2 linked regions of the Homo sapiens genome follow. The protein of the gene in region 2 interacts with the protein of the main gene of each other region in a pairwise test. Each region holds a gene or a part of one and is shown on either strand. Other genes may lie near its edges.

What was found.
Region 1: the proteins of LRP10 (region 2) and SLC14A2 interact in binary tests that used the Homo sapiens proteins (3 or more experiments, as listed by UniProt).

Annotation. Positions count from the first base shown.
Region 1 is NC_000018.10:45,639,431-45,643,247, reverse strand, and holds part of SLC14A2 (urea transporter 2), read right to left. Parts: intron 3,503-3,817; coding exon 3,355-3,502; intron 2,040-3,354; coding exon 1,905-2,039; intron 117-1,904; coding exon 67-116; intron 1-66.
Region 2 is NC_000014.9:22,877,943-22,881,759, forward strand, and holds the end of LRP10 (low-density lipoprotein receptor-related protein 10 isoform 1 precursor), read left to right. Parts: 3' UTR 1-1,256; coding exon of another isoform or gene 1,257-1,259; 3' UTR 1,260-3,771; downstream 3,772-3,817. UniProt on the Homo sapiens protein: Probable receptor, which is involved in the internalization of lipophilic molecules and/or signal transduction. May be involved in the uptake of lipoprotein APOE in liver.

The sequences.
Region 1 (3,817 bases), on a different chromosome or scaffold from region 2:
ACCCCATATGTCCAGAAGCTCTGGGAAGAGCACTTTGGGGTAGTGTTCAGGAGAATCCACACTTACCACTGACATGATGTTGGAGATGGCTGCTTCCATGTATGCACAGAACAGGGCTGTGGAGGAACAAGGATCACCAGAGTGAGCTTCCCAGGGCCTTCCCCCTAAGCCACTGCCATTGCAGACCAGGGAGCCCAGACCAAGAACAGGAGCCCCACCCTCTCTCCTGCAGCCTCAGATTCTGCACCATGCCCTGACAGCTGGCATGCTTGCCTGGCATTTGTTATCTCTGTAGACAGGTGAGGCCAGTCTCCCACCAGACTGTTCATTCTTCGGGCAGAGATTAAAACATATATTTCCTTTTGTCCCCTCCCTGCTTCCATAGTGGCCTTGCATGGAGTCAGGGGTCAATACACATCATATGCTAGTCTACGCTGATGGTAGCGAAGAGCTAGTACAGGCTGGATGATTGTTGTAGGGGAAGAGTGGTCAGACTATACGAGCTCCTGCCAAGGTCCCTCCTATTCAAGACTGTGAGCAGCTGTGATGCTGCTTGATGTTCACCAAGTCTCACCAGGGCTGAACCTTACTAGACCCCTGAACCAGTCCCCAGGAGCCAGGCAGCTGGGTTCCCCCATGGGAGCTGGGTCCTGAGGACAGTCAGGAAAGCTCGTCCATGTAGCTGGTGCCTCTGGACAAACTCCTTCTGCCTGCAGCTTTGCTCTTTCTCCTTCTCTGTCCGGAACACCTCTTCCCTCTCTCTTTGTCAACTCAGATCCTACTAGAAGTGTTGAGATAAACCCTAGCCTCCCCCTGTAGGCTTCCCAGATGATTCCAGCCACAGGAATCTGCCACTTCTCTGAAGGCCAAAAGCAGTTACGGTCTGAACCTCAAAATAACAGGCACTTTTAACTTGACAAATATTTACTAGGTCCACTGTCTCCATGCCCAGCCTCATGTTGGCTGCTGAGGGGATACAAGGGATATGGAAGTCATTCTCAGTCTCCAAGCATAAGTGGGAAAAAACAAAAGAGAAGCTGTTCCAGACGCTAGTCTTCTGTTTCCTTGACTCTAGTTTTATTTATTAATGTCCTGTCCTGCTTCCAGAGAACAATACCAGGAGAGGAGAGCTGGTGGCAAGCTGGGGCTGGGATTGACTCTCCCTTTTGCCATTAATAGCTATCTTCTAGGGCAAGTTAATTAGCCCCTCTGAGCCTCATTTCCTCATCTGTAAAATGGGCCAGGCAGGCTATGCCTGGTGGTATTCTTGGGGGGATTAAGTGAGTTTGTATATTTATATAACAGGGTATGGTGCTGGGATACAGGTGTATGAGAAGGACTATGGCTGATTTCCCTTCTGGCAGCATATTCTCTGTTTATGGAAATCGAGCTTCCATAATGTGGTTATGATTTTTAGTGCTCCTGGTACATCACCTCACTGGATCATTCCAACAACCTTTGTGGACGCTGCAGCCTTAGTAATTATTTGTGCAATTACTTCTCTCCTGCTAGGCTGTGGCTTCATGAGGATGTAGTCACCATGGTATCTTCTATACCTAGACTAGGTCCTGGCACTTGATGGTGTTGTATAAACAGTTGTTGAATGAAGAGTTATAGAGAGCAGGAATGCTGTCATTAGCACACAAGGAAATGCATATGTGATTTCCTTATAAACTTTACAACACTGTGTAAGTATAATACCATTCGGTGGTTGTGATCCCATTTGACAGAAAAGGGACCTGAAATCCCCAGCTGTTAAGGGCAGCACTGGCATTAGGACGCAAGCCATTGGCCTTTCTGTCACTGCTGAACAGTATTGATTAGTGGTCCCCATGGGTTTCACATAAACAAGGGGGGAAGGAATAGCCAGAATAACCTGGTTGTCAGCTTTTCTGAACACCTACCACAGATGAGGGCCAGCAGGTGAGTCTGCCAGGTGAGGGCATAGAACATGCCTCCGATGGCGATGCAGGAGAGGACGCAGTTGTAGCTCCAGAGGCCTGTGTAGATGGTCTCGAAGGGTGTGGCCACTGACAGGGCTATGGGACAAGGTGTGGTATTTCTGTCTGATTCTGGGCCACAGAACAAAGACCACCCTGGGACTGGTGCCAGGTCTCAGAGTGGCCTCCATGCTGTTGTTCACCCCACATCTCCAAACCTGCCCATCAAAAGAGCCTCTACAAATGGCATCCGGTCTTAGGAGACCTTCAATGAAAAGAGAACAGTGGTTTCCAAACCAGTTGTCAAAGCCACAGGCTTCACTTGGAGGTCCTCCTGGGTGAGAAGAGGCAAGGAGGTGGGATTCTAGGCCCCTTCTTACTGCTTTGACTACAGCAACTGCAGTCTTAGCAAGAAAGTTTCCAAAAAGGTTTGAAGAGTTAAACAAATATTTTTAAAAGTTGTTTCAAGTGCTCTGGAAAAATATCCCTATACACTTATGGATATATGTAGATAGAGGAATGATACAGCAGAAGGAGTAAGATGTGAACAGTGGGTACATCTGGGGAAAGAATTTACAGATGCCTCATATTTTTATTTTTACCATTTTTTGATGAGTTTAAAACTATTTCCAAATAAAAAATACTTTTTAAAGTTTTGCTTCCAAAAAAATCTTTGAAAAATATTAGAAGAAGTCTAAAACAGGTTCCTACTCCCAATGCTCCTACCCCAATCTCTGACTCTGTTGTCAGAAAGAGCAAATACCTATTTAAATGTGTATACATACATATACACAGGTAGCAATATTAAAGCACATTTGTTAAGTGGCAATCCAATGTTTGAGAACAATTTTCTTTGTATCTTACCAAAAATTTCAGAGTGCTGGGCCATTTATTTTATCACAGTTGGTCTTGGTTACTGCTCCCGCCCCTACCCCTGTGTCTCTCCAGCATCCTCAGCTCCAGGGGCTCAGTTTGCAGGCCAACTTGGTTCTTACCCCCTTGCATCTCTCCACATGTATTTTTTTTTTTTTTAAGACGGAGTCTCACTCTATTTCCCAGGCTGGAGTGAGGTGGTACGATCTTGGCTCATTGCAACCTCCACCTCCTGGGTTCAAGTGATTCTCCTGCCTCAGCTCCCCAAGTAGCTGGGATTATGGGTGCCCACCACCACACCCAGCTAATTTTTGTACTTTTTTTTCTTTAGTAGAGATGGGTTTTCACCCTGAGTTCAGGTCATCTATGTGCCTCGGCCTCCCAAAGTGCTGGGATTACAGGCATAAGTCACCGTGCCTGTCTCCCTGAAAGTATTTAAAACTGCAGGGAAGAGAATGTCTGGAAGATTTGCTGTATGTAGGGGAAAAGTGACCTTGAGTGAATTATCCTGAGGACCTGAAGAGAGGGAGCTCTGTCCTACCTGCTAGCAGCCCCACGATTGAGCCAATGGCTGCATGCAAGCAGATGAGTGGCGAGGAGATGAACAGAGCCACCAGGAACACGCCGCCTGTCCAGGGATTGTCACAGCCATACACCTGGCCGACCCCAACAGGGATGGCTTGTAACAGCTGCAAAGTTAACAGAATACAGGTCACTGGAGCATGGACAATAATGCAAAAACCAGACTCAGGGCCAGATTTGAGCCATTCCTCGGGGGAGTAATGGAGTGGAACGGGAGGATGACTGTACCCTCCAGCATGTGAGAGAACATGGGAGGCATGAGCTGGAACAAACAGCTCCTCACTCTACCACCCAGCAGGCATGTGAGCATCCCTCATGCAAAGCCAGGGCCCCCAACATGGGCTGGGCATGGATGCTTCTGAGGAACATACGGCTTCTGCTTTGAGGGGACCAGAATGCACCTCCTCCCTAGAATGCCGCTG
Region 2 (3,817 bases):
GGCAGAACCTGAGGTTTTGCCATCCACAATCCCTCCTACAGGGCCTGGCTCACAAAAAGAGTGCAACAAATGCTTCTATTCCATAGCTACGGCATTGCTCAGTAAGTTGAGGTCAAAAATAAAGGAATCATACATCTCAAAATTTTGCAAATTAGCTGCGAGCCTGAGCCCCGCCTCTGCCCATCTCAGTCTATGCTCACCTCATCCCACTCCTCCCTGTGGAGCCCTTTGCTTGGCCCTCTACCTCCTGCCCTCTTCCTGTTCATCTCCCAACCACTGCACTCTTGATTTTTATACCACACAGAAGGTAAGAAAATTCTAGGAACCCTAAGGATCAATCCTCTCCATTTTCACTCAAATGCCTGGGGCCCAGCTCTGCAATGACTGACTCCAGGGCCTCTTTCCTCACTGCCAGCATAGAAGTCAGGGGAGCCAGCTGGGCCCTGCGGTCAGGAAGGTTCTCATTTTTGGAGCATACCCTGAGCCCAGATCATAGGAGCAGCTGTCCCTGGTGGGACACAGGAGTCATGACTCCTACCCTCCACCCTCCACACCCACCAGGCATTTAGCAGTCTGTCCTATGCAAGACAGATGAATTCTCAGCCAGGATACCTCAAGGCAGGCAAAGGTGAGTGGAGGGAGAATTCACAAACATTCAGGGTGTGTGGTGCTGGCATCACCATGGCCAAATCCAAGAGGTCTTCCTGGAAGAGGGCCCAAACTGGAACCAAAAGAATGCTGTCAGCAGTTGGAATAGAGCTGTGAATTCTAGACAGGGGGAGTGTCCCCAGAACAAGCAAACGGAGGAGACAAGAGGGCAAGGGTTATAGGAAAGACCCTGGGCCTGAGAGCACAAGCAGCGGCCAGAGCTGCAGCGCTGGGGTGGGTGATGGAGGGAATGATTCGCAAGCAGTGTTGGAACCCAGCCCCTAGTGAGCAAAGTGACAGAAGCTGCCCCAGAGTTTGGAAGGAAGATCGAGGCAGAAGATGTAGAAGGAAGCTGTGGGGGTGGGAGTGATGCCTCAGGAACAAAACTGAGGAATTCCCTAACGGACCCAGTCCCTGGGGAAAGAGGCTCCCCTCAGGCTCTCCTTGTCTAGCCCCACACCTGGCAGAGCCTGTCACCCAGCCTAGCCCCACGCCTGGCAGAGCCCATCACCCAGCCTAGCCCCACACCTGGTGGAGAGGCCCTGTTGATTACACCCTGTCAGCCTCCTCAAACCCAGCACTAATTGCACAATTTTCCTCTCTTCTAGTGAGCAAGAGCCTGAGGAAGTAGCAGAGAGGGGTGTGGGCCCATGTGCAGTTCTGGGACCCTGGCACCTTGGCTCAGGGAAGACCCGAGCTCCTTTCACTGCAGACCCTCTCCAGAGACTGGGGAGAGGGCTCTGGAGAACCTGGTTCTTGCTTACTGTTCTCCCTTTGGGCCCTCCTTCCCAAACGCAAACAATCCAGGATCCACTCAGCGTCAGGCCCAATGGAAATAGTGAAGCAGTGATTTTCCCTCCCCTGCCTCTCCATAGCCTGGTCTTTTGCCCTCTCCTTTGCTCTTCTCTTCCCCCATAGCCACCTCAAATACCTGCAGCCTGATATCTTCATCCCTTCATCCAGACCTTTTCTCTCCTAGTGGTATTGCAAACTGAAAGTGGACAAAGACTTAAGGTAAACCTGCTCCTCATGGTGGAATGCTTCCAAATGCTGGAAGGAGGACTTTAGGGCAGAGTTCACTAAGGAGGCTTGTGCTTATAGATCAGTGGGCCTGAAAGAAGTTTCTCTAGGTTCTGGTTGTGTGCTGTACGAGGTGTAGGTAGTAATAATACTCTTGTCAGCCACAGTGAAGCCCCAAGCTAGCCGGGATAGGGGACTGACCTTGTACAGGCAGCATGGAGAAACTAAGACAGAGTGTCCTGCCCAAGTGATGGCACTGGGGAGCAGTCACTCAGGTTTATTTCCACCAGGGCCCAAGAAAAAAAGAAATGAGGCAACCTAAAATTCCATCAAGATAGATACCAATATCCAAGGTGCTTGGTCTTAGCGGTGTGGGACCCACGTTAAGGCTCTTGGTGGGAAGGTGGGAGGTGTTTTCAGCATGAGATAGGGTTCAGGCTGTGAATCAGAGTCTAGAGCCTAAGATAAAAGAAGATACCAGGGCTGGGCCACGGTGGCTTTCGCCTGTAATCCTAGCACTTTGGGAGGCCAAGGCAGGCAGACTGCCTGAGCTCAGGAGTTCGAGACTAGCCTGAGCAACACGGTGAAACCCTGTCTCTACTAAAATACAAAAAAGTAGCCAGGTGTGGCGGCATGCACCTGTAGTCCCAGCTACTCGAGAGGCTGAGGCAGGAGAATTGCTTGAACCCGGGAGGCGGAGGTTGCAGTGAGTGGAGATCGCGCCACTGCACTCTAGCCTGGGTGACAGAGCGAGACTCCTTCTCCAAAAAAAAAGAAAAGAAGATACCAGAACTCAGTCCTTAAGAAACAAAATTCTGCCAGGCGCAGTAGCTCACACCTGTAATCCCAGCACTTTGGAGGGGCCAAGGCAGGCGGATCGCTTGAGGCCAAGAGTTCAAGAACAGCCTGGGCAACATGATGAAACCCTGTCTCTACCAAAAATACTAAAAATTAGCCAGTCTCACAACCTGGTCTCAAAATAAATAAATAGATTTAAAAAAAAAATCATGGGCCTGAACCAAGCTCCAGACCTCACTAGGAGGGGAGAAGGACCCCCCAGCCACACAGCCCAAGGCTGCAGAAGCACCTAGGTGGTTAGAGAGTGAGTGCCTGGATGGGGCGCAGTGGCTCACACCTGTAATCCCAGCACTTTGGGAGGCCGAGGCAGGCGGATCACGAGGTCAAGAGATCAAGACCATCCTGGCCAACATGGTGACACCGTGTCTCTACTAAAAATACAAAAATAAGCTGGGCATGGTGGTGCGTGCCTGTAGTCCCATCTACTCGGGAGGCTGAAGCAGGAGAATCACTTGAACCTGGGAGGCAAAGGTTGCAGTGAGCTGAGATCGCGCCACTGCACTCCAGCCTGGCAACAGAGCGAGACAAGACTCCATCTCAAAAAAAAAAGTGAGTGCCCGATGATGCCAGATTCTTCATCACCTGAAGTGAACCCACACAACAGGGCTGGGCCATGGGCATCATAAACCCCATTTTGCAAGCTCAGGAGGAGCTTTAGGGAAATCAGAAGACTGGCCCAGTCTCTACCAAGTGGTGGATTTAGAGCCGGCATGGCTTCGTTCCAAATCTCACCCTTGTCCCACCATTCCATGGGACCTCCCATTCCTGAGGGAGCCTGGATACGGGCAAGTGCACAACCCGGGAGGTTGAGGTTACAGTGAGCCATGATCGCACCACTGCAGTCCAGCCCGAGCAATAGGGTGAGACCCTCCCTCTGAAAAAAATAAAAATACTCATTTTGGAAGGAAGTCATTCTAAAATGTTACACTTGTCTTCAGCATATCTGCAATATAATAATTTTCTGCATAACTGAGGATCATTCACAGAAACCAATGGCTTTTCTCCAGCAGTGTCTTCTGAAGTTGTAACAGTAGGGGCACGGGGAGCTATTTGCTTTTATGCTAAATGACCTTAGACCACTTATAAAATGCATATGAGTGCTTTAAATGTTATTTTGTGTGTGTGTGGTGTTGCCTCCCTGACTACAAGGGGTCACTTGCTACTCTAAATGTGTTTCTAATCTACTAGTACAGGAACACACATGGACACGTTAAAATTGTGAATAAAAGTAAGTAAAAAGTAAAAGTAAGTAGGCCATGACTGAGGACTGGAGAATCTACCCAGTGAGTAA